4 linked regions of the Homo sapiens genome follow. The protein of the gene in region 1 purifies or fractionates together with the protein of each later gene. This does not show direct contact. Each region holds a gene or a part of one and is shown in the gene's direction. Other genes may lie near its edges.

The links.
Region 2: the proteins of L3MBTL1 (region 1) and NSMCE4A purify together in Homo sapiens (affinity purification with mass spectrometry; 2 studies listed by BioGRID and IntAct, with this or other methods). This does not show direct contact.
Region 3: the proteins of L3MBTL1 (region 1) and ZNF281 purify together in Homo sapiens (affinity purification with mass spectrometry; 3 studies listed by BioGRID and IntAct, with this or other methods). This does not show direct contact.
Region 4: the proteins of L3MBTL1 (region 1) and ANAPC1 purify together in Homo sapiens (affinity purification with mass spectrometry; 5 studies listed by BioGRID and IntAct, with this or other methods). This does not show direct contact.

The regions. Positions count from the first base shown.
Region 1 is NC_000020.11:43,503,820-43,510,710, forward strand, and holds the start of L3MBTL1 (lethal(3)malignant brain tumor-like protein 1), read left to right. Parts: upstream 1-3,877; 5' UTR 3,878-3,925; intron 3,926-6,891. UniProt on the Homo sapiens protein: Polycomb group (PcG) protein that specifically recognizes and binds mono- and dimethyllysine residues on target proteins, thereby acting as a 'reader' of a network of post-translational modifications.
Region 2 is NC_000010.11:121,958,199-121,965,222, reverse strand, and holds part of NSMCE4A (non-structural maintenance of chromosomes element 4 homolog A), read left to right. Parts: intron 1-1,894; coding exon 1,895-1,985; intron 1,986-3,115; coding exon of another isoform or gene 3,116-3,222; exon of another isoform or gene 3,223-3,470; intron 3,471-3,705; coding exon 3,706-3,800; intron 3,801-4,816; coding exon 4,817-4,865; intron 4,866-5,004; coding exon of another isoform or gene 5,005-5,030; exon of another isoform or gene 5,031-5,624; intron 5,625-5,627; coding exon 5,628-5,722; intron 5,723-5,812; coding exon 5,813-5,887; 3' UTR 5,888-5,899; intron 5,900-7,024. UniProt on the Homo sapiens protein: Component of the SMC5-SMC6 complex, a complex involved in DNA double-strand breaks by homologous recombination. The complex may promote sister chromatid homologous recombination by recruiting the SMC1-SMC3 cohesin complex to double-strand breaks.
Region 3 is NC_000001.11:200,407,016-200,414,807, reverse strand, and holds the start of ZNF281 (zinc finger protein 281), read left to right. Parts: upstream 1-4,771; 5' UTR 4,772-4,862; intron 4,863-5,084; 5' UTR 5,085-5,102; coding exon 5,103-7,790; 3' UTR 7,791-7,792. UniProt on the Homo sapiens protein: Transcription repressor that plays a role in regulation of embryonic stem cells (ESCs) differentiation.
Region 4 is NC_000002.12:111,818,170-111,825,193, reverse strand, and holds part of ANAPC1 (anaphase-promoting complex subunit 1), read left to right. Parts: intron 1-26; coding exon 27-63; intron 64-157; coding exon 158-228; intron 229-2,593; coding exon 2,594-2,772; intron 2,773-3,728; coding exon of another isoform or gene 3,729-3,740; coding exon 3,741-3,955; intron 3,956-5,771; coding exon of another isoform or gene 5,772-5,793; exon of another isoform or gene 5,794-5,905; intron 5,906-6,235; coding exon 6,236-6,354; intron 6,355-7,024. UniProt on the Homo sapiens protein: Component of the anaphase promoting complex/cyclosome (APC/C), a cell cycle-regulated E3 ubiquitin ligase that controls progression through mitosis and the G1 phase of the cell cycle.

The DNA.
Region 1 (6,891 bases):
ACAGGGTTTCACCGTGTTAGCCAGAATAGTCTCAAGCTCTTGACCTCGTGATCCACCCGCCTCGGCCTCCCAAAATGCTGGGATTACAGGCATGAACCACCGCGCCCGGCCAGCAATGAATTTACTTTCTTTCCCTGTGTGCTTGCTTGCTTCCTTTCTTGTAATATAATAGGCAGGGTTTTCTGGTGTTTGTGTTAGAAAAGGTTCCCAGCCAGGCGCGGTGGCTCATGCCTGTAATCCTAGCACTTTGGGACGCCAACGCAGGAGGATCCCTTGAGCTTAGGAGTTTGAGACCAGCCTGGACAACACAGGGAGACCCTGTCTCTATTTTATGTAACTACATTTAAAAGATAAAAATAAAAAAAGTTTTTAAAACGTTCCATACTAGCTCAGTCTGACGTTGGAACCAGAAGTGTTTTTATACATAAAGGGCACATCCTGATGATTTCCCTAAAAATCTGCAGACAGTCTCAATGGTGAATGAAACTCTATTGTAGGAACAGAATGGTGTGGGCTGCTTAGAAACAACAGTTTTCTTTTGTTTGTTTGTTTTACATACAGGGTCTTGTTCTATTGCCCAGGTTGGAGTGCAGTGGTATGATCACAGCTCACTGCAGCCTTGACTTCCTGGGCTCAAGCAATCCTCCCATCTCAGCCTCCCAAGTAGCCAGGACTATAGGCATGTGCCATCACACCCAACTAATTTTTAATTTTTTTGTAGAGACTGGAGGGGGTCTGTCATTGATACAGGAGTGGGGCAGGGAAGTGCTGGGTAGAGAAAGGCAGGGTCCCTGGTGAGGGCCCCACCCATGGACCCAGGTGAAGACAGGCACTCCTGTTTTTGTGCCCAAATGTTGCATTTTCCAAGACCACTCTGGCCCGCACACCCCCCATCTTGTGCCTATATAAACCCCAATACCCTAGTGGGCACACATACAAATGGCTGGATATGGAGAGGAACACATCAGAAGAACACACGGACGCTGACAGGCCATCAACTGCAGAAGGATGCGGATGCCTAGGGAAATTCAGCTGAGGGTGGTTGAAGGAGAGCCAGGCAACTCCAGGGGAAGACCACCTTCCCACTCCATTCCCCTTCTGTTTCCCCATACATCTGCTGAGAGCAACCTCCACCATTCAATAAAACCTTGCACTCATTCTCCAAGCCCATGTGTAATCTGATTTTTCCAGTACACTAGGGCAAGAACCCAGGATACAGAAAACTCTCTGTCCTTTCAATAAGGCAGAGGGTCTAATTGAGCTGATTAAAACGAGCTGTCTACGGACGGCTAAACTGAAGAGCACACAGTAACACACGTCTACTGAGGCTTCGGGAGCTGTAAATACTCAACCCTAGATGCTGCTGTGGGGTTGGAGCCCACGCTCCCCACTACCTGCCCGTCTGTATGCTCCCCCTAGGGTTTGAGTTGCAGGGCACTGAGGAAGCAAGCCACTCCCCCGCTGTCACACACCCTGCTAGGGGGATAAGGGAACTTTTCTTGTTTCATTACTATGTTGACCAGGCTGGTCTTGAACTCCTGGCGTCAAGCAATCCTCCCACGTTGGCATAAGTGCTGGGATTACAGGTGTGAGCCACTATGCCTGGCGTAAACAACAGTCTTCTCAGTGCTTTGACTCATCAATATTTCAAAATATTTTGGGTCCATGCTTGAGCAGGGGGTTAACATGGAGAAGACAATGGGGGCTGTGAACTTGTGAAGAGGGGGCTATCACTTGAGGGGAGGACTGGACTTGCTTACTTGCTCCTGAAGGCAGACTGGTACTGGAAGGGGAAACTCTGGCTTCATGAGGCAGAAACTTCTCCAAATCATATTAACGTGGTAGCAGCTCTTCACCCCAGGATTTGGTGATCTTGATACCTGGTTTGTTTGTTTGACCCCTGTTCAAGCCAACAAGCCAGGTATCAAGACCACAAAAATACAGTTTTTTTCTTGGGTGAGGAGAGAGATTTTTTGTTTGTTTAGACAGGATTTCTCTCTGTTGCCCAGGCTGGAGTGCAGTGGCTCACTCATGGCCCACTTCAGCCTTGAGCTCCTGGACTCAAGCGACCCTCTCACCTCAGCCTCCCTAGTAGCTAGGGAGGACTACAGTTATGCGCCACCACACCCAGCTAATTTTTTTTTTTTTTTTTTTGTAGAGACAGGATTTTGCCATGTTGCCCAGGCTGGTCTCAAACTCCTGGGCTCAAGCAATCCTCCCACCTCAGCCTCCCAAAGTGCCGGGATTACAGGCGTGAGGCACAAAAATACTGTCGATAGCCAGAAAAATAATGTCTTAGCAACTCACATCCATGTTAGTTGTTTGTTTCTAGGTCTTGCTAGCTCAAATTCCACTTATCCGTCTTAATCACCATCTAAAAGATGCCTTTGTTTTTGAGAATCCATGTGTTTGTGTAGGTTCACCACTTTCTTTTAATCTTCTGAATACCTAAAATAAACCTTTGAAATCTAGATCACGCACAGTCTAGGTTGAGATGAGAGAATACTGAGCGGATGGTTGTGTATGTATCAATGTGTAGAAAAAGGCATCCATCGTTATGGCAACCAGCATCCTTAACTGATGCAATCCTGTTCCCAATAATATGAGATGTGATTAAAAATTGACATTGCAGCAAGGAAGAACACATGCAATGCGTTGGCGTGGCAACCGGAATAGTTAAATTCTGCATAAATTTAAACCTGTCGATCACAGCAATTTGGAGAATTTGCCTACATTTCATTAGGAACCCTTTTCTCATCTGGCCTGGGAGGGAATCAGGAGCCTGGTGGTCTGACATGTGGCCATGACTTAAGGCCAAGTAAAATCAAGGGATTAAATTAAATCATTGGTGTGGGAGAGGGGCTGGATGGTGGACTGTACCAAAAGTTACCCTGTTTTCATCTGCATACCCTACATCATTTAGTCACTCAACAGATATTTATTAAGCACCCACTCTGTGCCCCGCTCTGGGCTAGGTACTAGGAATACAAAAACTAATATTTCCTACCCTCTTGGAGCTTGAAACCTCTTAGCCTCTGGAATTACTCAAATCTATGTGAAGTGCCAGCTGTGGTATGTGTAAGCGAGACAGGTATCTTGTGTTACCAGAACCAATAACAAGGAGATTTGATTAATTAGAGAGATCAGGTGGAGGCGAAGAGATCAGTCAAAGTGAAGCAGAGAGGGGCAGTGATTGCTACACCACCACAGGAACCCAAACTGAAAACGACCATACGCCATGAAGTGGGTGATAGTCTTTACCAATGTCGAAATGGAGGACCTGGGGGATACTGATGTTACCCAGCCCTTCGCAGTGGGGTCACCCAAAAGTAGACGCGGCTAATGCCGCTCTTTATGCCCGGCAGGGCCAGGACCAGAGTCCCCGCACGAGGGTTCCTCTCTCCGGTCGCACGTGCCCTTCACCCTTCCTGAGGCCGTTTTCTGACGCTCCTGAGCTCCCCTCCAGGGTGAGGGCAGGCGCGGTGGGAAGGCGTTGGACAGAGCAGACACTCGGCTGGGGTGCATGCCTGGGTGCAGCCTCGTCTTTTGTCACTAACCACTCAGCTCGGTAGCCCTCCAGGCTCTCTCTTCGAGCTCCGCGGTCCCTGCGCCCCCGCTGCGCTCTGCTAGCTGTGATGCAGGGGTTCGGGGGCAGGAAAAATCTCGACCCGCCACGCCCGTGCGGCAAACCTGTCCTAGGTTGAGGGGGCATGAGGCGCGCACAACCAGGGCCTCGAAGGCAGGCAAGAGGGCGCGGGCGCCACAGAAGCCTGGGCCTGCGCCTGGGCCGGGCAGATGTGCCCGGCGCTCGGGCCCCGCGCTCTGCGTCCTGCAGGGAGGCGGACCCGCCCCCCGAACGCGCAGGCGCGCGGCGCCCGGCTCGGACCGTAGCTAGGCGCTGGGCGGCCACCGGCTGGCCAGGCAGGTAAGCAACCAGCGGTGCGTGGGCTCAGACCTTGCGTCCCCTGGGCGCCGCGCCACCCCGCTCCGTCCAGGGCGGCGAGGGCTCAGGTCTGCGGCCCCGGCGTCTCGCTCCTTCCGAGCGCCTCCGGCGGGGGGCGCGGGCTGGGGAGGAGGTTCGGGAAAACGCCGGGGAAAGCGGTCTGGGCGGAGCGCGCAGGGGGCCAGGCGGGTGCGGGACTCCAGGCCCAGCCGACCCTGCGGCGTGGCTTCGGGCTGCGATCAGGAGGGGCGAGGAGGGTGGAGGCTGCGTGTTTGGAGATACGCAATCAATTAAGAGTTTTTTTATTAATGGAAAGGTGTGGAGGGCGGGGTTTTGGTTTTCTTGGGAAATGAATGAGTCATTTGGCAAACTTTCCTACCATTAATTTTGGATTTTTATAATGGAATATGGAATTTTTTTTGTTTCTCTCTCTTTTTTTTTTTTTGGCCATAAAGAGAAAGAATAAAAAGAATTCCGCCATTTTAGCGTTTTAAAAAGTAACCGTTCTGCGGAACTGTCGGATCAGTGACCGCCCCGCCCGCCTTTGCCTATACCAGTCCCGGGAGGCTGGTGGCGGGTCCCGATCCTGGAACCCTGCGCTCAGGGCCGCTTCCGTCCCCTCCCGAGTCCGGGAAGCAGCTGCGGCGAGGGGCGGGGCCGAGGCCCCAAGTTTGTAGCGCTCAGCCTTGCTGTGTGTTGTTTTCTGGGTAGCTGTCGAGGGCTCTACTCCCCACCCAACACCTATAGTAAGGACATTTATTGGTCGTTTTTGTATACAAGGCCTTGGAAGGCAAGGGATTGAGAAAACCTTGTCAGACATCAAGAGAAAATACCCATGGACACATTCAGCCAACAGATATTTATTGAGCATCTGCTATGTGCACGGCTCTGGGCTGGGGCTACAATGGTTGTTTTAGGTCGGGTCCCCCGAAACAGACTCCGATAGCAAGATTTGAGTGTAGGTTTATCGGAGTGCTCTTGCGAATATCACCAGTAGGGGAATGACGGGTTGGGCGGAAGAAGAAGCTGAACTGCTGATGTAGTCTCAACAGAGGCCTCAGCCTGACCTAATGGAAGCTCTGGAACTGAGATGGCCCTGCAGAGGTGTTCCAAAGTAAGGCAAGGGGGTGGGGTCTTTACACCTCATAGCAACTCGTCATTGGCTGGCGGCTTCTAGGAGAGCCTTCAAGTGAGGTAGCTCCCTAGGCTCAGAGCAGTTCCAAGAGAGGCTGACGGCAGAAGGCTGAAAACTTTCTTCAGTGTCCACCAGAAACCCAGACTCTTCTGAGTCCCCCCTCACTTCATGGCAGACTCCTTCTCAGTCCCTTTTGCTAGACCCTTTTCCTCTTCCCAACCTATAAATGTGGGTGTGCTCCAAAGTTCCCACTTTTTTCTTTATACTCAGTTATGTGGTTTTTTCTTTTTTCTTTCTTTCTCTCTCTCTCCTTCCTTCCTTCCTCCCCTCCCCTCCCCTTTCTCTCTGACAGGGTCTTGCTCTGTCGCCCAGGCTCGAGTGTAGTGGTGTGATCATAGCTCACTGCAGCCTTTACCTCCCAGGCTCAAGCAACCCTCCCACCTCAGCCTCCCCAGTAGCTGGGACCACAGGGGTGCACCACCATGTTCAGCTAATTTTTAAAATCTTTTGTTGAGGCTGAGGCCTCACTATGTTGGCCATGCTGGTCTCAAACTCCTGGGCTCAAGTGATCCTCCCACCTTGGCCTCCCAAAGTGCTAGGATTACAGGCATGAGCCACCAGGCCTCGCCCCAGTTCTGTGGTTTTAAATGCCATCTACACATGCTGGTCTTCAAATTTATACCTCCAGCCCCAACCTCATCCATTATCTCCAGAATATAAGCTTCATGAGAGCATTTTGTCATGTTTGTGACTGTAACCCCAGAGCACAGAATGGTGGTGACACCTACTTGGTCCTCCCATGCTTGCTGGAAAAGAGGCAGCGAACCCAAACAGAAACGTAGTCTTCAAATCCAGCTTCTTCAATAGACCTGAGATGTGACAGGTTTTGACACAGAGTGAAATTCTTTCAGAAGTAACCACATTCACTCTTAACTGCCAGTGTTTCAAATAAAAAGATTAACTCTATTTATTTATTTATTTATTGAGACAGGGTCTCATTTTGTCACTCAGGCTGGAGTGCAGTGGCGCGATCTTGGCTCACTGCAACCTCCACCTCCTGGGTTCAAGGGATTCTCCTGCCTCAGCCTCCTGAGTAGCTGGGATAACAGGCGTGTGCCACCATGCCCAGCTAAATTTTTGTACTTTTGGTAGAGATGGAGTTTCAACATGTTGTCCAGGCTGGTTTTGAACTCCTGGCCTCAAGTGATTGGCCTCCCAAAGTGTTGGGATTACAGGTGTGAGCCACCACGCATGGCCTGCCTGGCTAACTTTTGTACTTTTTGTAGAGATGGGGTTTCACCATGTTGCCCAGGCTGGTCTCCAACTCCTGAGCTCAAAGCGATCCACCCACCTTGGCCTCCCAAAGTGCTGGGATTATAGGCGTGAGCCACCACGTCCAGCCTAACTCTAAAGGTATTTAAAATAGTACAAGTACTTCAGCTGTGCAAAGCAAATTGGAATTGAAATTCAGGGAATTATGTTTTATAATTTTCTTTCTTTCTTTCTTTCTTTTTTTTTTTTTTTTGAGGTGGAGTCTTATTCTGTTGCCCAGGCTGGAGTGCAGTGGCATGATCTTGGCTTACCGCAACCTCCACCTCCTGGGTTCAAGCAATTCTCCTGCCTCAGCCTCCCAAATAGCTGGGATTACAGGCGCCTGCCACCACACCTGGCTATTTTTTTTTTATTTTTTTGTGTTTTTAGTAGCAATGGGGTTTCACCATGTTGGTCAGACTGGTCTTGAACTCCTGACCTCAGGTGATCTACCCACCTCGGCTTCCCAAAGTGCTGGGATTAGAGGCGTGAGCCACTGCGC
Region 2 (7,024 bases), on another chromosome or scaffold:
TGCATGCAATTTGGCCATTTTTTCTAAGTGTGCGGGTCTGGAGCCAGGTTTTGTCACTTAAATAATCATTTTATTTAAGCCTTTAAGCATTTTATTGGATTGGCTGCTTGTCTTTGTTTTAACTCATTTCTCTAGTTTTGATCAGTTCTCCGAAGCCAGGGTCAACCTCAGCACTGTCAACATTTACGGCTGGATAATGTTGGTTTGGGGAGCTGTCCTGCGCATTGTAGGATGCTTAGCGGCATCCCCAGCCTCTACCTGTTATATGCTAATAGCCCCCCCGACCCCTGAGTTGTGACAACCAAAAATGTCTACATGTGACAACAAATGTTCCCTGGGGAGGTGGGGGGAAAGTCACACCCACTCGAGAACCACTGTTTCTAAACCGCCCTTTTGTATTTTGCTATTTTATGTTCAACCTGAAAATGGTTAATCTGGTAATGTTACTATTCTATTAAGAAATTGATATGAAAATGTTACTGAGGCCAGGCACAGTGGCTTACGCCTGTAATCCCAGCACTTTGGGAGGCCGAGGCGGGCAGATCACAAGGTCAGGAGTTCGAGACCAGCCCGGCCAATACGGGGAAACCCCGTCTCTACTAAAAATACAGAAATTAGCTAGGTATGGTGGCAGGTGCCTGTAGTCCGGGCTATTCGGGAGGCTGACGCAGGAGAATTAGGAATCTAGGAGGCAGAGGTTGCACTGAGCCGAGATCATGCCACTGTACTCCAGCCTGGGCGACAGAGCGAGAGTCCGTCTCAAAAAAAACAAAGGTTGCCCGAGTGTGGTGGCTTACGCCTGTAATCCCAGCACTTTGGGAGGCCAAGGCGGGCAGATCCACCTGAGGTCAGGAGTTAGAAACCAGCCTGGCCAACATGGTGAAACCCTGTCTCTACTAAAAAGTACAAAAAATTAGCCAGATGTGGTGGTGGGTGCCTCTAATCCCAGCTACTCTGGAGGCTGAGGTAGGAGAATTGCTTGAACCTGGGAAGCGGAGGTTGCAGTGAGCCGAGATGGCACCACTGCACTCCAGCCTGGGCCACAGAGCAAGACTCCATCTCAAAAAAAAAAAAAAAAAGTTACTGAAACCAGAAAATCTGTTTTTTTTTAAACCATAATTTTTTTTGAGACAGAGTCTTGCCCTATCACCCGGGCTGGAGTGCAGTGGCGCGATCTCGGCTCACTGCAACCTCCGCCTGCTGGGTTCAAGCCATTCTCCTGCCTCAGCCTCCCAAGTAGCTGGGATTACAGGCAGGCACCACCATGCCCGGCTAATTTTGGTGTTTTTTAATAGAGACGGTTTCACCATAATGGCCAGGCTGGTCTCGAACTCCTGACCTTGTGATCCACCTGCCTCAGCCTCCTACAGCGCAGGGATTACAGGCGCGATGTCGGCTCACTGCAAGCTCCGCCTCCCGGGTTCATGCCATTCTCCTGCCTCAGCCTCCTGAGTAGCTGGGAGTACAGGCGCCTGTCACCACACCTGGCTAAGTTTTTGTATTTTTAGTAGAGATGGGGTTTCACCGTGTTAGCCAGGATGGTCAGCAAGACCCCATATCTAAAAAAATTTTTTTTAATTAGCCAGGTGTCTTAGACAAGGTAGAATGAATTAAAAAAAAAAAAATTAGCCAGGTGTAGTGGTGCACGCTTCTAGTGCCAGCTACTCAAGAAGCTGAGGTGGTAGGATCCCTTGAGCACAGGAGTCTGAGGTTACAGTGAGCCGAGATCATGCAACTGCACTCTAGCCTGGGTGGCAAAGCAAGACCCTGTCTCAAAAAAAAAAAAGAGTTCGGGTGTGCAAGAGAGAAGAAAAGGAGTTTGGGTGTGCAAGAGAGAAGAAAACGTTAATAGGCCAGTAAGTAGGTCTGTCAGCTTGATAATGACTTTTTTCAGTTAAGAAGAATGGAAGAATCTCATCAAGAAGCAACAGAGAAAGAAGTAGAAAGAATCTTGGGATTGTTGCAGACATATTTTCGAGAAGATCGTAAGTGTAACACCATTCAAAGTGGAGCAATTTGTATTTATCTGTTCACTGAGGTTACTTGTATTTAAAAGGCAATTTCAGCTGTATGTAATATTTGAATAAATACATATGCATTTTATGAGGATTCTTCTCCCCTTTAGAAATTTCATGTGAAAACTTTGAAGTTAACGTTTTCATTTTTATCTTTAAAAGATGGGGATTTTTTTTGTTACAAAATGAAATATGCCATTCAAGTGAGAAATGTCAAAAGTAGCTGTTCCACCTCCCCTCATTATAAAATGTAATGTGTATATTTTCAGATTATTTTATCAGTTTTATACACACCTACCTAAATAGTTTGTTTTGGCCGGGCGTGGTGGCTCACACCTGTAATCCCAGCACTTTGGGAGGCTGAGGTTGGGAGTTCGATACCCGCCTGACCAACATGGAGAAACCTCATCTCTACTAAAAATACAAAATTAACCGGGTGTGGTAGTGCATTCCTGTAATCCCAGCTACTTGGGAGGCTGAGGCAGGAGAATCGCTTGAACCCGGGAGACAGAGGTTGCGGTGAGCCAAGATCACGCCATTGCACTCTAGCCTGGGCAACAAGAGCGAAACTACATCTGAAAAAAAAAAGTTTGTTTTTTTCTTTTTTTCCAAGCTAATCATAATATGCACATTCTTCTGCTACGTGACTTTTCCATGTGGACATTCTTCCACATCATTTCATATAGATCTCCCTTGTTTTGTTCACTGATTCCCATTATATGGCTGTACTGTAAATATATTTAACAGATCCTCCATTAATGGATGATTAAGTTCCTTTTTTTTTTTTTTGAGACAGAGTCTCGCTCTGTCGCCCAGGCTGGAGTGCAGTGGCGCGATCTTGGCTCACTGCAACCTCTCCCTCCTGGGTTCACGCCATTCTCCTGCCTCAGCCTCCCAAGTAGCTGGGACTACAGGCACCCGCCACCACGCCTGGCTAATTCTTTTGTACTTTTAGTAGAACCTGGGTTTCACCGTGTTAGCCAGGATGGTCTTGATCTCCTGACCTTGTGATCCACCCACCTCGGCCTCCCAAAGTGCTGGGATTACAGGCATGAGCCACCGCGCCCGGCCAAGTTCCTATTTTTTTTTTTTTTTTTTAGGAGACAGTCTCACTCTTTCGCCCAGACTGGAATGCAGTGGCACCATCTCAACTCACTGCAACCTCCACCTCCTGGATTCAAGCAATTCTCCTGCCTCAGCCTCCTGAGTAGCTGGGATTACAGGCGCACGCGCCACCACATCTGGCTAATTTTTTTTCTGTATTTTTAGTAGAGACATTGTTTCGCCATGTTGGCCAAGCTAGTCTTGAACCCCTGACCTCAGGTGATCTGCCAGCATCGGCCTCCCAAAGTGCTGGGATTACAGGTGTGAGTGCCATGCCCAGCTGGATGATTAAGTTCTTTATAGCATTTTACTCTTGTATAAATTGCTGAAGTAAAAAATCTTAGTATGTAATTTTGTGCAGTTACACTTGTATTTCTGTAGCACAGCTTCTTAGAGGTGGTTTCCAGGTCAGTGGGCATACATGTTTTTAGTAGAGATGCCAAATTGGCCTCCAGAAGGGTTGGATTGATTTGCACTCCTGCAGCAGGAATGAGTACACATCCTTTCTTTGTCTCTGGCTAACGCTAGAGTGTACTGATATTAATGACAAGCAAAAATCAATTTTTTTTTCTCTTTTTGTCTATAGCTGATACCCCAATGTCCTTCTTTGACTTTGTGGTTGATCCTCATTCTTTCCCCCGTACAGTGGAAAACATCTTTCATGTTTCCTTCATTATACGGGTAAGATTAAAGATTATTTTTCTAATTGCTTTTATATGCTTTTAAAAGGCTACATAAGAAAAGCTGTAGAAGGGAGCTGGCAAAGGTATCTGTATACACTAGCCAGTATATGTTTCAGACCCATTGTAGCAAAACATTAATTGGCATATTAGGTAGAAGAAGCTAGCTAAAATTTTATATGCTTGCTTTTATGTTTTAGAAATTATTTAGAGAAAGAATTGGAAAAATTTGAATATGGAACTTTAGATTAGATAACAGTATGGTATAAATGTTAAATTTCCTGCATTTGATAGTTGTCATGTTGTATAATATCCTTGTTCTCAAGAAATACACACTGAAAGATTAGGGAAAAGAAGCAGGCCGCCTATCATTCTCACTTCATTCATAAATAATAATATGTAGAGTGATAAAGTAAACGTGGTAACTAACACTTTAACGACTGATGAATATGGGTAAAGGATATATGCCACGTGTTTATAGTAGTCTTATAGCCCTTTAAGTCTGAAATTATTTCAAAATTGGTTTTAAAACTCTACTCAGATATGTACCATGGAAATTTGCTTTAGACTATCTTTAATCTTACTTCAGGTTGCATTCCCACATGTAAGATGAATTTGATTATAACCTTAGAGAAAACCTATGTCTACCAACGTATTTTCTCAGAAATAATAACAAAGGCATATTTTGCCAGTGGTCCCAGTGACAGAATTATGCAGAATAAAATGTGGAGTATTCCAAAATATGTATAAATCAGTTAAAGAGACAAGATGAGTTTCACTTAAGAGATTCTCAGGATGGAGGCTGTGTCTGGGTGAAAGAGCTGATTAGAAACCCAAAGATACCCTGTGTAAATAAAAGATACTAGGGAAGTCTTATCTATATCATCACCTTATTATTGCTATGGTGTAATTTGATTTTCTGAGATACTGAATTTTCTGAGTAATTTTTTCCATCTAGTGCGTATAGGTTTGAGTCTTAAATGTTTGTCTTCTCCTAAAATCATGTTTTCGTTTTAGGATGGTTTTGCAAGAATAAGACTTGACCAAGACCGACTGCCAGTAATAGGTAAATGATACTATGTTTGGAAAAATTAGTTTTAGAGAAAATATATTTGTTAGTAGAATTTAAGTATTTTACTAAATGTAAATGAATTTTCAATGTAGATTAACTTTTACAATATTGTATCTTGCTCAACTACCTGAAGATACTGAAAACATGGCCAGCGTCTAAAATTTTGATGGATTCATCTATATCATTGATTCAACATCTGCTGTAAATATTAACAAAGAAATGATATAATTTCCCTCAGATCTTAATTTAGAAAGTTGGTGATTGCAGTCATTTTTGTAGTATCCCTCTTTCTAATCACGTTTTGTCAGATGCCGGCACCTTCTTTTCTCTTTGAGGTTCTATGAATCTTTCATTCTTACCTGAATAATTTCACACTCTCCATTACTCATGTCCTCCTAAGGTCTCCTGTGGAGAGTGAATATTTCCATCGCACTTACTTGCTACTTTCAATGTTCTCAATGTCCTATTGGACTCACTAGGGCTTAGCTCTGTGGTTGACACATAGATATGCAGATTTTCAAATGTCTGGAATGTGTTACTCTACTACATGTTTTTTGAAATGGAAACAGATGGAATGACTGGCTACTGTAATAATACTACAGCAGCTCCATAATGCATGAAATCCTAAAAAGTATGTAATATTATAAGTATCTTTTCAATACAGGTTTCATTGCTATTATTCATCAGTTTCCGTTTAGATTACCTGTTCCGATTTAATAACCTTTGATAAATTTGAAAAATTTGTCTTTCAAACAGAGCCTGTTAGTATTAATGAAGAAAATGAGGGATTTGAACATAACACACAAGTTAGAAATCAAGGAATTATAGCTTTGAGTTACCGTGACTGGGAGGTAAAGCTCTGCCTGTTGCCCCTGCATAGTTCTGACTCTGCCTTCACTTGCAGTAAGCCCAGTGCCTAAATGTTCATTATTGTCTGCCAGGAGATTGTGAAGACCTTTGAGATTTCAGAGCCTGTGATTACTCCAAGTCAGAGGCAGCAGAAGCCAAGTGCTTGATGCTAGCTGAAGGTAACCTTTTCAATGGGATGGCTACACAGTTCTATTAAAGTTCATTTGGCAATCCAAAGTATCCCTTTTCCCCATTCCAGTGAAATTTGAATTTTTGCCTCCCTGTAGTGCCCCATTCTTAGAACTGTGTGTAACAGGTGAGAAAGGGATAGTGGTTCTGCGTTCCCTTCTCTGGATTGATTAAATTTGTGCTGTTAAGATTTGCAGCTGAGGCCAGGCGTGGTGGCTCACGCCTGTAATCCCAGCACTTTGGGAGGCCAAGGCAAGCGGATCATGAGGTCAGGAGTTCGAGATCAGCCTGACCAACATGGTAAAACCCCATCTCTACTAAAAATACAAAAATTAGCTGGGCGTGGTGGCATGCACCTGTAATCCCAGCTACTCAGGAGGCTGAGGCAGGAGAATTGCTTGAACCCGGGAGGTGGAGGTTGCAGTGGCTGAGATCGTGCCACTGCACTCCAGCCTGGGAGACAGAGCAAGACTCTGTCTCAAAAAAAAGACTTGCAGCTGAAAGAAGCAGTGCAGGATTGTTCTTGGTTTGGTGGGTTTTGTTTTTGTTTTTGTTTTTAATAAAAAATAGGGAAGGGGTCTCACTATGTTGCCCAGGCTGGTCTCAAACTCCTGGGCTCAAGGGATGCTCCCATCTCAGCTTCCCAAAGTGCTGGGATTATAGGTATGAGTCACCATACCCAGCTGCTGCTTTTCCCCCAACAAACTGGTAAATTAGATAAGTGAAATATTGAATCCTCTCATCCATGTTGTTGTTCACCATCCCATTAGATTTGCTTATTTTATAAGTACAAAGCAGAAAAAGAGGATTAGGATAGAATTACCTTAGAATAATCTTGGTAAATTGGCATTTCTAAAATTTGTATTAGGCTATGAAAGAATTCTTCTTCATTTTTATGAAGGGTAACATTTCTAGAAAGAAATCTTAATAATGATCTGACATTTTGTAGTGCAGACAGTTGTGGGTGGGAATCAGAAGACCTAGATTCTATCGGCTATGCCCCTTACTTTATTTATTTATTTTTGCCCCTTACTTTAAAACCTTGGGCAAGTCACTTAATCTCACCCAACTTCTCTTTTTTTTTGAGACAGAGTCTTGCTCTGTCACCCCCAGGC
Region 3 (7,792 bases), on another chromosome or scaffold:
TCCCAAAGAGTTGGGATTACAGGTGTGAACAACTGCACCTGGTTAGCTCTTTGATTTTCAAAGCATCATATAGATTTCACATAAACAGCTGGGTTTCTTATACGGAAATAATAATGCATGTTGTTCAATGTTCAGGAAATTTTATTTGTTCAGGAAATTTTATTTGTTCAGGAACTCATCTATTGTACAAAGCAAAATATTCCTATCTCATAAATAGAATTAAAATTTGAATGACTTACTCTTAAATTTTTATTTATGCAGCAAAATAAGGAATAAAAAATTAACAATTATTGAGGGAAGAGGGACTCTTAATTATCTTAGAGTTTTTACATAAATCAGAAAAAAGATTTTTTTTTCTTAACTATTTAGAATTATCCAGAATTGGAGCAAACAAGTAGCCTATAAAATGAGTACTAAACTCAAGTACTGAGTGGCTTGAATTTAGTCTGCACTAAATGGATCTTGACCAAGGCTACTGGAAGGAGGAAAGTGAGTGTTGGTATTGAACTTTGGGACATCGTGTATACACAGTAAAAAAAAGTGTAGCTATAGTTGAATTTTTAAAAGTTTATTATCAAAATGGAAATTGTTTATTGTTCATAACTCTTCATTAATCATTCTTATTAAAACAAATGTATGTATTGCAACAGTTTTAGTTTCAGAAATTATAAAGGTAGTAGTATTGAATTAGATTTGTTATAATGAATATACCATACTAATGTAAAATGTTAAAAATAGAGGAAACTGGGGATGTATCGGATATATGCAAACTGTTAGTACTATCTTTCTTTGTTGTTTTTTTTTTGAGACGGAGTTTCACTCTTGTGGCCCAGACTGGTATGCGGTGGTGCAATCTCTGCTCACTGCAACCTCCGCCTCCCGGGTTCAAGTGATTCTCCTGCCTCAGCCTTCCTAGTAGCTGGGATTACAGGCATGTGCTACCACGCCCGGCAAATTTTTTATTTTTAGTAACGACGAGGTTTCACCATGTTGGCCAGGCTGGTCTTGAACTCCTGACCTCAGGTGATCTGCCCGCCTCGGCCTCCAAAAGTGCTGGGAATACTGGCAAGAGCCACCGTGCCCAGCCTGAGTACTATCTTATCAATTTTTCTGTAAAACTAAAATTGCTGTAAAAAACAAAGTCTATTTAAAAAGAAACTAAATAAAAACAAGAATCACTAGTTTTATACAATCTCTTTGTTCTGGGATTGTTTCCATTATCTGTAAAATCTAAGCATTCAGAGATAAACAAATATTAAAATATTCCTTTAATATTTTACTTTTGAAAGAATCATATTACTTAACTATTTGAACCATTTCTAGATTTAGTACAGACTCCTATTTAATATTTGGCTTGTTAGTACCTAACAAGAATACTACAATGTAGATTTTTATTTCCTCACTGAAGTGAAAATTTTTTGCTGTCTGTTTTCTCTAAGTTTAAAGCATATAGTTTTATTTTCTTTTAAAAGTTAAGATTTTAGAGTTAAAAGTGAATTTATATTTTCTAATTAATTAAGCATTTTCTAAAGCTAAAGACTAATCAACATCTTTGGAATATTTGTTACATATATAGATTACAATAAAAATGTATGCAGTTCACAACAGATGGTAATGTGAAATTTTATCTCGAGCTGGTATTTCAAGTATTATTTCAAAACCTATTCATACTTATTACCTTAAGTTTATTCTTTTAGCTGCTTTATAATTTTTTTTTTTTAATTTTAACCCTGTTGAAGATTGTAACAAATATATTCTAGTTGCTACAGTCTAAAACAGTGCTTGGAAATACTGATGCTTAGTGTTATTTCTATGATTACTTTAATAACATTTCCTGAGTTTAATTTTTTCATTACCCAGCTATCTTTCAGAACTGGTATATTGATTTTTCTAATTAATATTCTTTGTACTTGGGATGGTATTTTTATTTTGTACTTCTAAAGAATTGAATAGCACAACCATTATAAGTGATGTGCTTGCTATGTTATCATATAAATGCTCAAGGTACACCTTCTAATGTTGAAAAATAGGAAAATAAATTGACCTTGATGAAGTGTGTCTTCTTTTGTCTGTTCCCAGGAAAGTTTATTTCAGGTATTTCTACTGCTGAAATGATTAGCGTTAACAGCTTTTCCCCTCCATTTTATTTTACAGGGTCTCTTCATCTTCCTGATATATGGGGTGTACAACACAGAGGTAAGTCTGCTTGGAGTATCTCAAGGCTGACAGAGTGAATGAGAGAAATGACAGGTTTCTTATCTTGATAACTGAGGAACAAAGTTGGCTTTTCATATGAGTGTCCTACTGCCCTTCATGCTTGGACTAGCTTATATGCATCCCAGCTTACCATTAAACACTGACACCCTGAATAAAGGGACAGCCTCATTTCTCACAGGCGTTGACTAATATTTTACGACTGCCTTAAGTTTTTGAACTTTCAGTCTTTAACACTTAGCTATTGTAGAAAAAAACAAAAACAAAAACAAAAAAACAACTCAGCCTCTCCTATACTCTCACTCAACAATCAACACAGAAGATTTCTGCGACCAAATGTGTAGGGGTTTCTCCCCACACACCGAGCAAGCAATCAATTCTGCAGCAGACACCACTGGGGTGTCCTCCAATTCAATTCTGACACTACCTACCTGGAGACAGCATCAGATCCCCCAGATTAAGAGCCCAGGCCTACAAGACTGGCCGGCCGCATTTCAGATGCCAATCACAAGCCCCAGGTAGTTTTACCTGTGCTTCTGACTGACCAGCTGTAAATCGGGGTTCCCATGACCCCTTCCTTGGGCTTGATTAATTTGCTAGAGCAGCTCATAGAACCCAGGCAAACACTTACGTTTTCCGGTTTACTATTAAGGACATTACAAAGGCTATCGATGAACACCAGATGAAGAGATGGATGGGGGAAAGTCTGTGGGAAGGGGCGCGGAGCTTCCACGCCCTTTCCGGGTGCGCCATCCTCCTGGAACCTTCACGGGTTCGCTTACAGGAAGCTCTCCAAACCCCGTCCTTTTTTAGGTTTTTATGAAGGCTTCATTACACAGGCATGATTGATTAAATCATTGGCCATTGAAGATCAACTTAACCTTCAATCCCTCTCTCCTCCCCGGAGGTCGGGGGGTGGGACTGAAAGTCCCAAACTCTAATCCTGCCTTGGTCTTTCCGGTGACCAGCCCCCATCCTGAAGCTACCTAGGGGTTGCCAGCCATCATCAGTCGCTTCATTAGCATACAAAAAGACATTTATTACTTTGCAGATTCCAAGGATTTTTAGCAGTTGTATGCCACAAAACGGTTCAAAGTCCAAATATATATTTCACAATATCACAACTATACTTGACAGTATTAAAGTGTCAGTTTAAGTGGTGGAATACTTACATGTTGTTTCATGGGATTAGAAAAAAAGCAATTTCTTCTTATCTCAAAATTCTCATTAAATATTGTCTGTAAAATTTTTAGGGCAGGCTGAGAGAGGTCCATAAGTATTAGTAAATAATCCCTATGGTTTCGATTGTGAAATTTCCCAGAGAATTTATTATTTAATTATGAGAAGTTATTTAGCTAGAAACATTGTGATGTACATGTAACTTCATTAAGAAAACATACTATGTAAATAAGCTGTTGTCATAGTTCTAGTTCTTTTATTTAAAATTTCTCATTTATAAATATCCTTTGCTAGGAAAGTGTCTGGTTTAGATTTCTGCATGCTTAACATGAAATCGAGTGCCTTGTGTACATTAGACACTGAATAAATATTTGTTGTTTGATTTTGTTGATATAACTTTGATTTTAAGATTTTACTTCATAATTTTCCCTTACAAGAAAAATTTCTAAATTTGCAATGAGTTTCTCGGTATTCTGTACTGGCGAGGAAAGAGTTGATCCTAGCAGAGCTCTTAGAATGGCCTGGTGGTTAATTTTTCATAAACAATATAAAGGGCCAGGCATTCATAACGTGGCAAACAGACTGATTAGCCAGGCTAAGGTACGGGGGCATTTAAATAAGATGTAATGATAATGAAGTATGTGTGTGGGCGTGTTTTACAGGACTGCTGCACCTGGATTACGCTCGGTTTCCTCTTCCAGTAGCCTTCAGGAAGGTTGGCAGTAAGACAAGTTTTTTTCTTTTTCTTTTTTTTTTTTTTGTTGCAACGGTACCACTAATTGCGGTTTCAAAGCAGGCTCCTCCCATAAATGCAAAGGATATGCGCCCATTATTAGTGCTTCCAAATTCAAAGGGATAACATAAGCACCTGTTTTAATAAATGTTGAGCATTTGGAGTTGAATGCTTCTTGATAGAATCAAAAGTGCCCTCAATGATCCACTTCTAGGTTTGAATTTTATTTCAAGACCTGGATTGCAAAACCTAGAGTGAAGAAAGCCCTAACATTGAATCCTCAGTTTCCCTCACCTTCTCTTCCAGCCCCTTTCTCTGCATCTCCCACGCCACGCTGTAGTACAGTCCCCCGTAACTTCCCGCCCCTTGGGTTCCACCTCCTGAGCGTCTTTCCCCCAGAAACCCTCAACCACTTTCATCTCCTTCAGTGCAGCCCACCAATCACGCCTGTTCGCCTCGAAAGCCCCTTTTTAGCAGGGCTCCAAATCCCCGCCTCCCCTGCCCTTGCTCCCCCGCCTCCGCCCAACGGCCCCAGTGATTGACAGGCAGGCCGGGCGGAAGCTGCGGCGCAGGCGCCCTGGCTCCTTAGCCCTCCCCTCTGGCCGGGTCGAGGAGTTCCCAGCAGACACTGCGCCGCGGCTGCGCAGTACACGGGAGGCTTTTAATTCCATTGTGGAGAGGACGGCGTTATTTTTATTAACTGGAGGCGACGGCGGCTGCGGCGGCGGCGGGACCCGTAAGTATTGCCGGTGGGTCCAGGAGGGAGAGGGCGAGGCCTGGGGAAGAGTCGCAGGACCATGCGTGCCGGTGCCGGAGGCGACTGGGCTGGGAATTAGTGCTGGGCGCGTTGCGGTCTGGGCGGCGGCGCGGCGGGGTCCTTAGCGCTGCGGTGGTCCCGGCCCGGGGCCCGGTTCCACCTCCTTTCCTCCCTCTTCCCTCTTCCTCCTCCTTTCTTCAGCCAGGCCTCCTCCGGGGTATGAAAATCGGCAGTGGGTTCCTGAGTGGCGGCGGAGGTACCGGCAGTAGCGGTGGTAGCGGCTCCGGCGGCGGTGGTAGTGGCGGCGGCGGCGGCGGCGGCAGCAGCGGCAGGAGGGCAGAGATGGAACCCACCTTTCCCCAGGGTATGGTTATGTTCAACCACCGTCTTCCCCCGGTCACCAGCTTCACCCGGCCGGCGGGGTCGGCCGCCCCTCCCCCGCAATGCGTGTTATCCTCCTCTACCTCCGCAGCCCCGGCCGCTGAGCCCCCCCCTCCGCCAGCCCCGGACATGACTTTCAAGAAGGAGCCGGCGGCGTCAGCCGCGGCCTTCCCCTCGCAGAGGACCTCCTGGGGGTTCTTGCAGTCTTTGGTTAGCATCAAACAGGAGAAACCCGCGGATCCTGAGGAGCAGCAGTCCCACCACCACCATCACCACCACCACTATGGGGGGCTGTTCGCTGGAGCTGAAGAGAGGTCTCCAGGCCTAGGAGGCGGTGAAGGGGGGAGTCACGGCGTCATCCAGGACCTCAGTATTCTCCACCAGCATGTCCAGCAGCAACCAGCCCAGCACCACCGTGACGTATTACTCAGCAGCAGTAGCAGGACTGATGACCACCATGGCACTGAGGAGCCAAAGCAGGACACTAATGTCAAAAAGGCAAAAAGGCCAAAGCCAGAATCTCAGGGAATCAAAGCCAAGAGGAAGCCAAGTGCATCTTCCAAACCTTCTTTGGTTGGAGATGGAGAAGGTGCCATCCTCTCCCCAAGTCAGAAACCTCATATCTGTGATCACTGTAGTGCTGCTTTCCGAAGCTCCTATCACCTGCGGAGACATGTCCTCATTCATACAGGAGAAAGACCTTTCCAGTGCAGCCAGTGTAGTATGGGTTTCATTCAGAAATACCTACTACAGAGACATGAGAAAATTCATAGTAGAGAGAAGCCATTTGGATGTGATCAGTGCAGCATGAAGTTTATTCAGAAGTACCATATGGAGAGACACAAGAGGACACATAGTGGAGAAAAGCCATATAAGTGTGACACTTGCCAACAGTATTTTTCAAGGACTGATAGATTGTTGAAGCACAGGCGCACATGTGGTGAAGTCATAGTTAAAGGAGCCACTAGTGCAGAACCTGGGTCATCAAACCATACCAATATGGGTAATCTGGCTGTGTTGTCTCAGGGAAATACAAGTTCTTCAAGGAGAAAAACAAAGTCAAAAAGCATAGCTATTGAAAATAAGGAACAGAAGACCGGTAAAACAAATGAATCGCAAATTTCAAATAATATAAACATGCAGAGTTACTCAGTAGAAATGCCTACCGTGTCTTCCAGTGGAGGCATAATTGGCACTGGAATAGATGAACTGCAGAAGAGGGTGCCAAAATTGATCTTTAAGAAAGGAAGCAGAAAGAATACAGATAAAAACTACCTTAACTTTGTGTCACCATTACCAGACATAGTAGGACAGAAATCCTTGTCTGGAAAACCAAGTGGCTCACTTGGCATAGTATCAAATAATAGTGTGGAGACCATTGGTCTTCTCCAAAGTACAAGTGGCAAACAAGGTCAGATAAGTAGTAATTATGATGATGCCATGCAGTTTTCAAAGAAAAGAAGATATTTACCAACTGCCAGCAGCAACAGTGCCTTTTCTATAAACGTAGGACACATGGTCTCCCAACAGTCTGTCATTCAGTCTGCAGGTGTCAGTGTTTTGGACAATGAGGCACCATTGTCACTTATTGACTCCTCAGCTCTAAATGCTGAAATTAAATCTTGTCATGACAAGTCTGGAATTCCTGATGAGGTTTTACAAAGTATTTTGGATCAATACTCCAACAAATCAGAAAGCCAGAAAGAGGATCCTTTCAATATTGCAGAACCACGAGTGGATTTACACACCTCAGGAGAACACTCAGAATTGGTTCAAGAAGAAAATTTGAGCCCAGGCACCCAAACACCTTCAAATGATAAAGCAAGTATGTTGCAAGAATACTCCAAATACCTCCAACAGGCTTTTGAAAAATCCACTAATGCAAGTTTTACTCTTGGACACGGTTTCCAATTTGTCAGTTTGTCTTCACCTCTCCACAACCACACTTTGTTTCCAGAAAAACAAATATACACTACGTCTCCTTTGGAGTGTGGTTTCGGCCAATCTGTTACCTCAGTGTTGCCATCTTCATTGCCAAAGCCTCCTTTTGGGATGTTGTTTGGATCTCAGCCAGGTCTTTATTTGTCTGCTTTGGATGCTACACATCAGCAGTTGACACCTTCCCAGGAGCTGGATGATCTGATAGATTCTCAGAAGAACTTAGAGACTTCATCAGCCTTCCAGTCCTCATCTCAGAAATTGACTAGCCAGAAGGAACAGAAAAACTTAGAGTCTTCAACAGGCTTTCAGATTCCATCTCAGGAGTTAGCTAGCCAGATAGATCCTCAGAAAGACATAGAGCCTAGAACAACGTATCAGATTGAGAACTTTGCACAAGCGTTTGGTTCTCAGTTTAAGTCGGGCAGCAGGGTGCCAATGACCTTTATCACTAACTCTAATGGAGAAGTGGACCATAGAGTAAGGACTTCAGTGTCAGATTTCTCAGGGTATACAAATATGATGTCTGATGTAAGTGAGCCATGTAGTACAAGAGTAAAGACACCCACCAGCCAGAGTTACAGGTAAGG
Region 4 (7,024 bases), on another chromosome or scaffold:
TTAAGTTTCATTTTGTTGCCTTTTAGCCCCCCAGAAGTTGCAAGTAGAACAAGAGGAAAACAGGTGACTTTTATTTAGACTGTGCTTTTATGTCAAACACTTAAAACAATATTATTTACTGTTCTGCTTAATAACTTTATGTTTTATTCTCTTATAGGTTTAGTTTCAGGCATTCTACATCTGTTTCTAGTCTAGCTGAAAGATTGGTTGTCTGGATGACTAATGTAGGTGAGAGCTTCTTTGTTACCTCCTAACTAGGCCGTGCTTCCTCCAGACTAGCTAGAAGTGGAAGGCATGAGGAGAGAGGGGCTCTGGCTTTGTGAAAAGGCCTCACAAGATTGAGATTATGGTTCATCAAGCCATATTCTTTTTTTCTCGACAATCTCACAACTTTCATATAATAATATTTGGGATACCAGCTTTTTATCTTGATGCATAAGGAATCTTTATTTGCCATTTAATTGGAACATTTGAGGCTGTGGCTATGTAAGCTGGTCTCTGAGAATGGAGAACTCTAATCACCTACATACACACCTGAAATCATTGTGATACTCAGATATCAGAAATGGGTGGTTTTGGCAAAGTCTAAAAGCAATAATATAAACATTTCAGGGTATACTTTTGAAGGATAAATGCACTTTTGAAGGGATTTCAGGCACCAAGATGAACATTGAACTGGGAAGAGGAAGAGGAAGGAAAAGAGTTCTATATTCCCTATTCCCCAAACCTATGCTCCTAGGTTTTAAATTAAGTAAAATACCAAAGAAATTTTTTTTCACAAAGAACTGAAAAACAAAAATTACTGCCACGAAGACATGATTTTAAAAATGAGGATGTTATATGGGATGTATGTTAAAAAGTAAAGTTTTAATGAATATTAAAAGATGTTTTTGAAGTCTTATCTAAAGTATGTTCTAAATGAAGTTTCTGACAGGTTTTTTTTTTTTTTTTTTGCATTTTACCTTAAAAATGACAATAACTGTTGCATAGTATACATACAGGATACCTATGCTGAAAAATATTGGATTAGTTCTATCCATTTGTATATTGCATAATATTTAATAAGTGTTATTCTCATATAAGGAAACATTTTTTGCCTCAATAGTTAATCGACTTTTTATATTATAAATAATGCATAGTATTATGAAATTTAGAAAATCATAAGAAAAACATGATTTAATTAACCTGAGGATAAATTTAAATATGAAATATGGTATACTTACAAAATAATATGTCAAACGTATATGTTTAGTTTAGAGAATGGTACTAAAGTGAGTATTGATGTACTGGTCACCCACCCCTAGAAATAGAATATTACCCGCATAGTAGAAGGCCCTTACATATCTGTTCTTGGATGGTCCCCTCCTGTCACACACCCCAATGTTATAGTGAACCACTGCCCTACCTACATTTGTGTTACCTTACTCTTGTTTTTCTTTATAGTTTTACATCTTTATAAATTGCTAGGTCTTATGTAGTTTTGAAAATATATAGATGTAAATATGTGTTCCTTTTTCTTCACTCAACTTTGTTTTTTAAAGATTCATCCATGTCGACTCATGTAGCAGTAGCAGCGGGCCATTCATTTTCTCTGATATAGAGATTACTTTGTTTGAACATATCATAATTTAATTACCCATTCTATTGATGATAGACAATCGGACTCACCCCTTTCTCCATCTCTTTTTTTTTTTCCATAACAAACCAGTATTGCTAATGAATATTTTTATACCTGTGTCTTTGTACATGGGTATAAGTTTCTATATGGCTGTTGATGGATCAAATGGGTGGATTGACCTATACATACCAACTGTTTTCCAAAGTGGTTGTACCAGTTTACACTACCATTGGCTATGGATAAGCATTATTGTTGCTTGGGCCAGGCGCGGTGGCTCATGCCTGTAATGCCAGCACTTTGGGAGGCCGAGGCGGGTGGATCACGAGGTCAGGAGATCGAGACCATCCTGGCTAATACGGTGAAACCCTGTCTCTACTAAAAAAAAAATTACAAAAAAAATTAGCCGGGCATGGTGGCGGGCGCCTGTAGTCCCAGCTACTCGGGAGGCTGAGGCAGGAGAATGGCGTGAACCCGGGAGGAGGAGCTTGCAGTGAGCCAAGATCGCGCCACTGCACTCCATCCTGGGCGACAGAGCGAGACTCCATCTCAAAAAAAAAAAAAAAAAAAAAAAAAAAGAATAAAAAGAATTATTATTGCTCTACATAGTTGCCAACATTTAGTATTGATTGGCTTTGACATTTATATTTCTCAGTAGCTTTAATTTGCATTTTCCTGATCCCTAATTAGGTAGAGCATCTTTTCATATGCATGTTGCCCATTTATGTTTCCCCTTCTAGGAAATGTCTTTTTGTCCTTTATATTTTTCTATTAGATTGTCTTTTTTTCTTCAGGTTTTTACAAGTTCTTTCAAAGAGACTTCCTATACTAGTCCTTGATGTCAAGACATTAGTCTGGTAGTAAGATGAATAAAATGAACTTATTTGTCAGGATAGATATTGTTGCCAACTTCAGTCAGGATAATTGGGACAGTGGCGAGTCTAAATTAAAATTTTTCTCTCTTCCTTTAACCATTAGGATTCACTTTAAGAGATTTGGAAACTCTTCCCTTTGGAATTGCTCTTCCCATCAGAGATGCAATTTATCACTGTCGTGAGCAGCCTGCCTCAGACTGGCCAGAAGCTGTCTGTCTCTTGATTGGACGTCAGGATCTTTCCAAGCAGGCCTGCGAAGGAAACTTACCCAAAGGGAAGTCTGTGAGTATCAACATAGAAAGTTCAGAGTTCCAATTTTAGCCTTAAATAAAATCATAAAGTAGAAATGTTCTTCATTTTCCTTTAAGGCTTTTTCTAAGTATATATATTAGCTTGTCTTTTATATTATATGCCAGACGGGGTTTGTAATTGTACGCGTCTTATTAATTGTTAAGATGAGCATTAGGAGCAGGAGATTTTGTGAATGTTCTGTCTTGTGCCTGGATCTTTCTTTGCCTTGAATCAGGACAAGTCCTGAGGGTAGTCATGGAAACTACCATGGCTATTTCCCTACTTGTACCATATTAGTAATTAACCACTTTGTAATTATTACATAGGAAAAGGGAGAGCACATATATCCTGAATTTGGATGAGTAATTATATATAAATATTTTCTACTGCATATTTTTTGATGTGTTGAATTTTTTGAATTTAACCTTTTAAATAGGTGTAAACATATTTGTTTAATCACATAAAACTGCAGCCCCAGGGAAAAAATGTGTTTTTTTCAGTAGAGTTGTTTAAAAACATGTCTTAAGCTATCCCTCCCGAAATACTGTCTTTCATCAATCATCAAGTCTGTTTTTTTTTTCAAATGAGTTCTAGGAATCCTGCAAGTAGAAAGTTAAATTATTTCATTACTCTCCAATTATCTTTTTAAATCATCCTCACCATGTTGGCCAGGCTGGTCTGGAACCCCTGGCCTCGGGTGATCCGCCCACCTCGGCCTCCCAAAGTGCTGGGATTACAGAGTGTGAGCCACCACACCCGGCCAGCAATATAGTACTTTTTAGAAAGATTTGTAGATTAGAGTCCCAGTATACATTGCGGCTCCAACCCATGCCTGCTTTGGAAAACATATTTTCTCTGTGCTAGTATAGTCAAGACACATCAGCCTATATATCCTCATGTTCAGCAAGTGCATGTTAACTGCTTTTGAAATTATTATTACAATAAAGTCTGTTACTCAGGTGCTCTCATCAGATGTTCCTTCAGGAACAGAAACTGAGGAGGAAGATGACGGCATGAATGACATGAATCACGAGGTCATGTCATTAATATGGAGTGAAGATTTAAGGGTGCAGGATGTGCGAAGGCTTCTTCAGAGTGCGCATCCTGTCCGTGTCAACGTAGTGCAGTACCCAGAGCTCAGTGACCACGAGTTCATCGAGGAAAAGGAAAACAGGTGAAAGAAAACACGTGCACTATCTCTTGTCATGTTTCATTGTTACATTTGTGTCTTGTGTATATTTGTTTTTCCTTCAAGTTTTTAGCATTTAAAACCCTAAAGAGATTTAAAAGATACTTTCAAGTGAAAATATGCCCTGTGTTTTAAGTTTTCATCCAACTTCAACAAACCACGTGTGTTAGCAAAATGTCTTTGGCTTTTGAGGACGTAATTGTTGTATTTCATATCGTCCTCCTCTTGAAATACATATAACACTTTACTCTTTAGAAAAGGTGAATGTAAAACTATTTTGCCTGATAGTTACCTTAAGAATTTACAAACAAAGAAAACACTGGACTTGTTTTTCTGTGTCTTGATCAGGAATAGATTTTGAGGTTAGTGGGGTTTTTAGTGTAGTTTAAACTTGTATGAGTATTTTTTTTTTTTGGATATGATAGATGATACTCCAAATAAAAATAGATAAGCCTTTCTTCTGCCACTCCCCTGCACAGGATACATCCCTTGATACATTATAAGACTCACATGCCTATGACATTCCAGAGCTATTCTCTTGGGACACTTCTGTTTTAAAATTCTCTCCTGTTCTTTTATCTGCTTGTCTCTATCATCTATCATTCATCTGCCACTGTTTTCTAGTTCTCTTTACTTTTTTTATGGTACTGTTTTGAGGGGAACCATCACCCACACTTAGCCACAGGCTGCTGAAGATCTGAATTAGTTGTGATTTCCCTATTAACTGTTTCCTCTCCACATGTACCCAGTTATTAGTCACCTGTGAATAAAAAGATGGAGTGACAGAAGTTGAGTTTAGAGCATAGGATTTATGAGCATGGCCTCTAGAGCCAGGCATGGCCATGCTGTGCTGGGTGACTTTGGTTAAATTACTTTACCTCTTGTTGCCTCAGTTGCTTCATTTGTAAAAGTAGGCATACTTCATGGGATGGTGCTGTGTATCAAGTGAATTATTTTTACATAGCACTTAGAATACTGCTCAATACATAGTAAAGCTCAGTGCAGTCAGCCATTATTAGTAGTAGAGTTCATTGATTCTAAGATGCAAGTTTTTTCACTTTTTAATATCTCTGAAATCAGTTGTGTATTTCAGTGAACAGGTGTCATAGTTTAATTGGCAGTGCTTTTTCTTTCTTAGTTTCTCATGAAATAATGATACATCTTATCAGTGGCATCTTATATTCAGGGGATATAATATTGTTCTCATTATAATTTTGTTACTTGCGCAAAGTTGAAGTGAATTATGTGTAAGATTTCCTCTAAAAAAATTCTATGGGTTGCAACAGCCTCTTGGCTTTGAATTTTCCTGATCCCAAATTAATGTTGCGGTTGTGTTCCCAGAGAATCTTTAAGACAGCAAAATTTTTCTTTCCAGTTAGCTAGAAAAGCAGTTATGTGTGTCCAGTTAAGGAGGGAGTATGCTTATGAATAGCTTTGTCTGCAGAGAAAATGTTTGTCAGTTGTCAGCCTCTGAAGGGATATTTCTGTGTCTTCAGATATAGCTTGTATAGGCGTTTCTTAGTTATAAATGCCCTACTTCCAAAATTTCTGTTAGTTTTTTTTAAGTGGCTATATGGAATGTTAAGCTATTTTAACATAGGAAGAAGTTGAAGAGTGGTGTATTAATTTCACAGTAGAGCCAACAGAAACCATTTTAACCTTGAACATACCTGATACATAATGGTATTAGTCCTATAAATCTAGCCATCATGTAAGTGAAACCAATCTGTATTTCCCTTGGAGACACCATGAAATCCATTCACCTCTAACACAAGGACCTTGTTTCTTTTCTTGTGTACAGGCCACAGAAATGGTACTTCTGAGGCTGTATTGGCAAAAGGGATGGGAGGAGGATCCCACATGTACTGAGGACAGCTAGACTGAAATTAACACAGTGATAAAAACCCCAAAAGTACTGTATTTTCCTTTGAGAAGGTTAGCATCCATCGGAGTGGAATTTTAAATTTCTTTTTTTTTTTGAATGCCTAGAGAGAGTCGGCTGGGTTTATAGGCCAGGTGGTTTTCATTCAATGTAAATATGAAACAAAACAGAGGAAATATGTCTCTCCCTAAGAGTGTAATAGGAACAAGAATATTAAAATGAAAATAATCATGTTTGGGTAGTTCACTCACATCTGTGTATGAATTTACTTTGAGACAACTTCATCTTATACAGTACACCTTCTTTTGAAATACTTACAGATGATATTTCAATTGCTCTTTGCTTTAAACATTTTCATATGTTGGTTTTTACTTTAATTACAGATTGCTCCAATTGTGTCAGCGAACTATGGCTCTTCCTGTAGGACGAGGAATGTTTACCTTGTTTTCGTACCATCCTGTTCCAACAGAGCCATTGCCTATTCCTAAATTGAATCTGACTGGTATGTTAAATTCTGGGCTCAATGAGAAAGGAAAATGATTAAGTACATGCATTAAGTGTAGTTCTTTAAATTAGTTAAAACAAAAGAAATGCTCCCTCTATCCCCAGTGATTTAAAATTTTCCTAATAGCTGCTGTAGTGGTTATCAAAGCTCAAATGCCATGTGAAACTAAACTTTGAGAGAAGCAGAATATAGTTCATTACTCATTTTTGCTTTTTAATGAGGTGATTTTAAGATCTAAAAAGTCACTTGGAGAAGTTCAGAAAGATATTATTGATAACGATGAGACTTGAATTTTAAATAATCTTAAGTTTAATATGTAAAAATATTTAGTTTTAAAATGTCTTACGTCATAGTTTAAACAGATGATCATTGTATAAATCAAGAAATGTACTAAGCAAAAAGAGAAACAATGGTCGCTTGCAGTACTCCCACTCTTCTGCATCACTCCTTTTAACATTTTAGTATATATGTTTACTAAGTTTATTTCCACATATTTATAATTTTATATTTGTTTAATTATCAGAAAATTTATATCTATTTTAGATTTTTTTAAAAATTTACAGTGAACATCCTTTTATATCTAGCAAATAAATGTATGTGTTTATAATTATGTGTATGTATTGTATACACGTGTTTTTAATCAATACATTCATTTTTATTTGCTTCA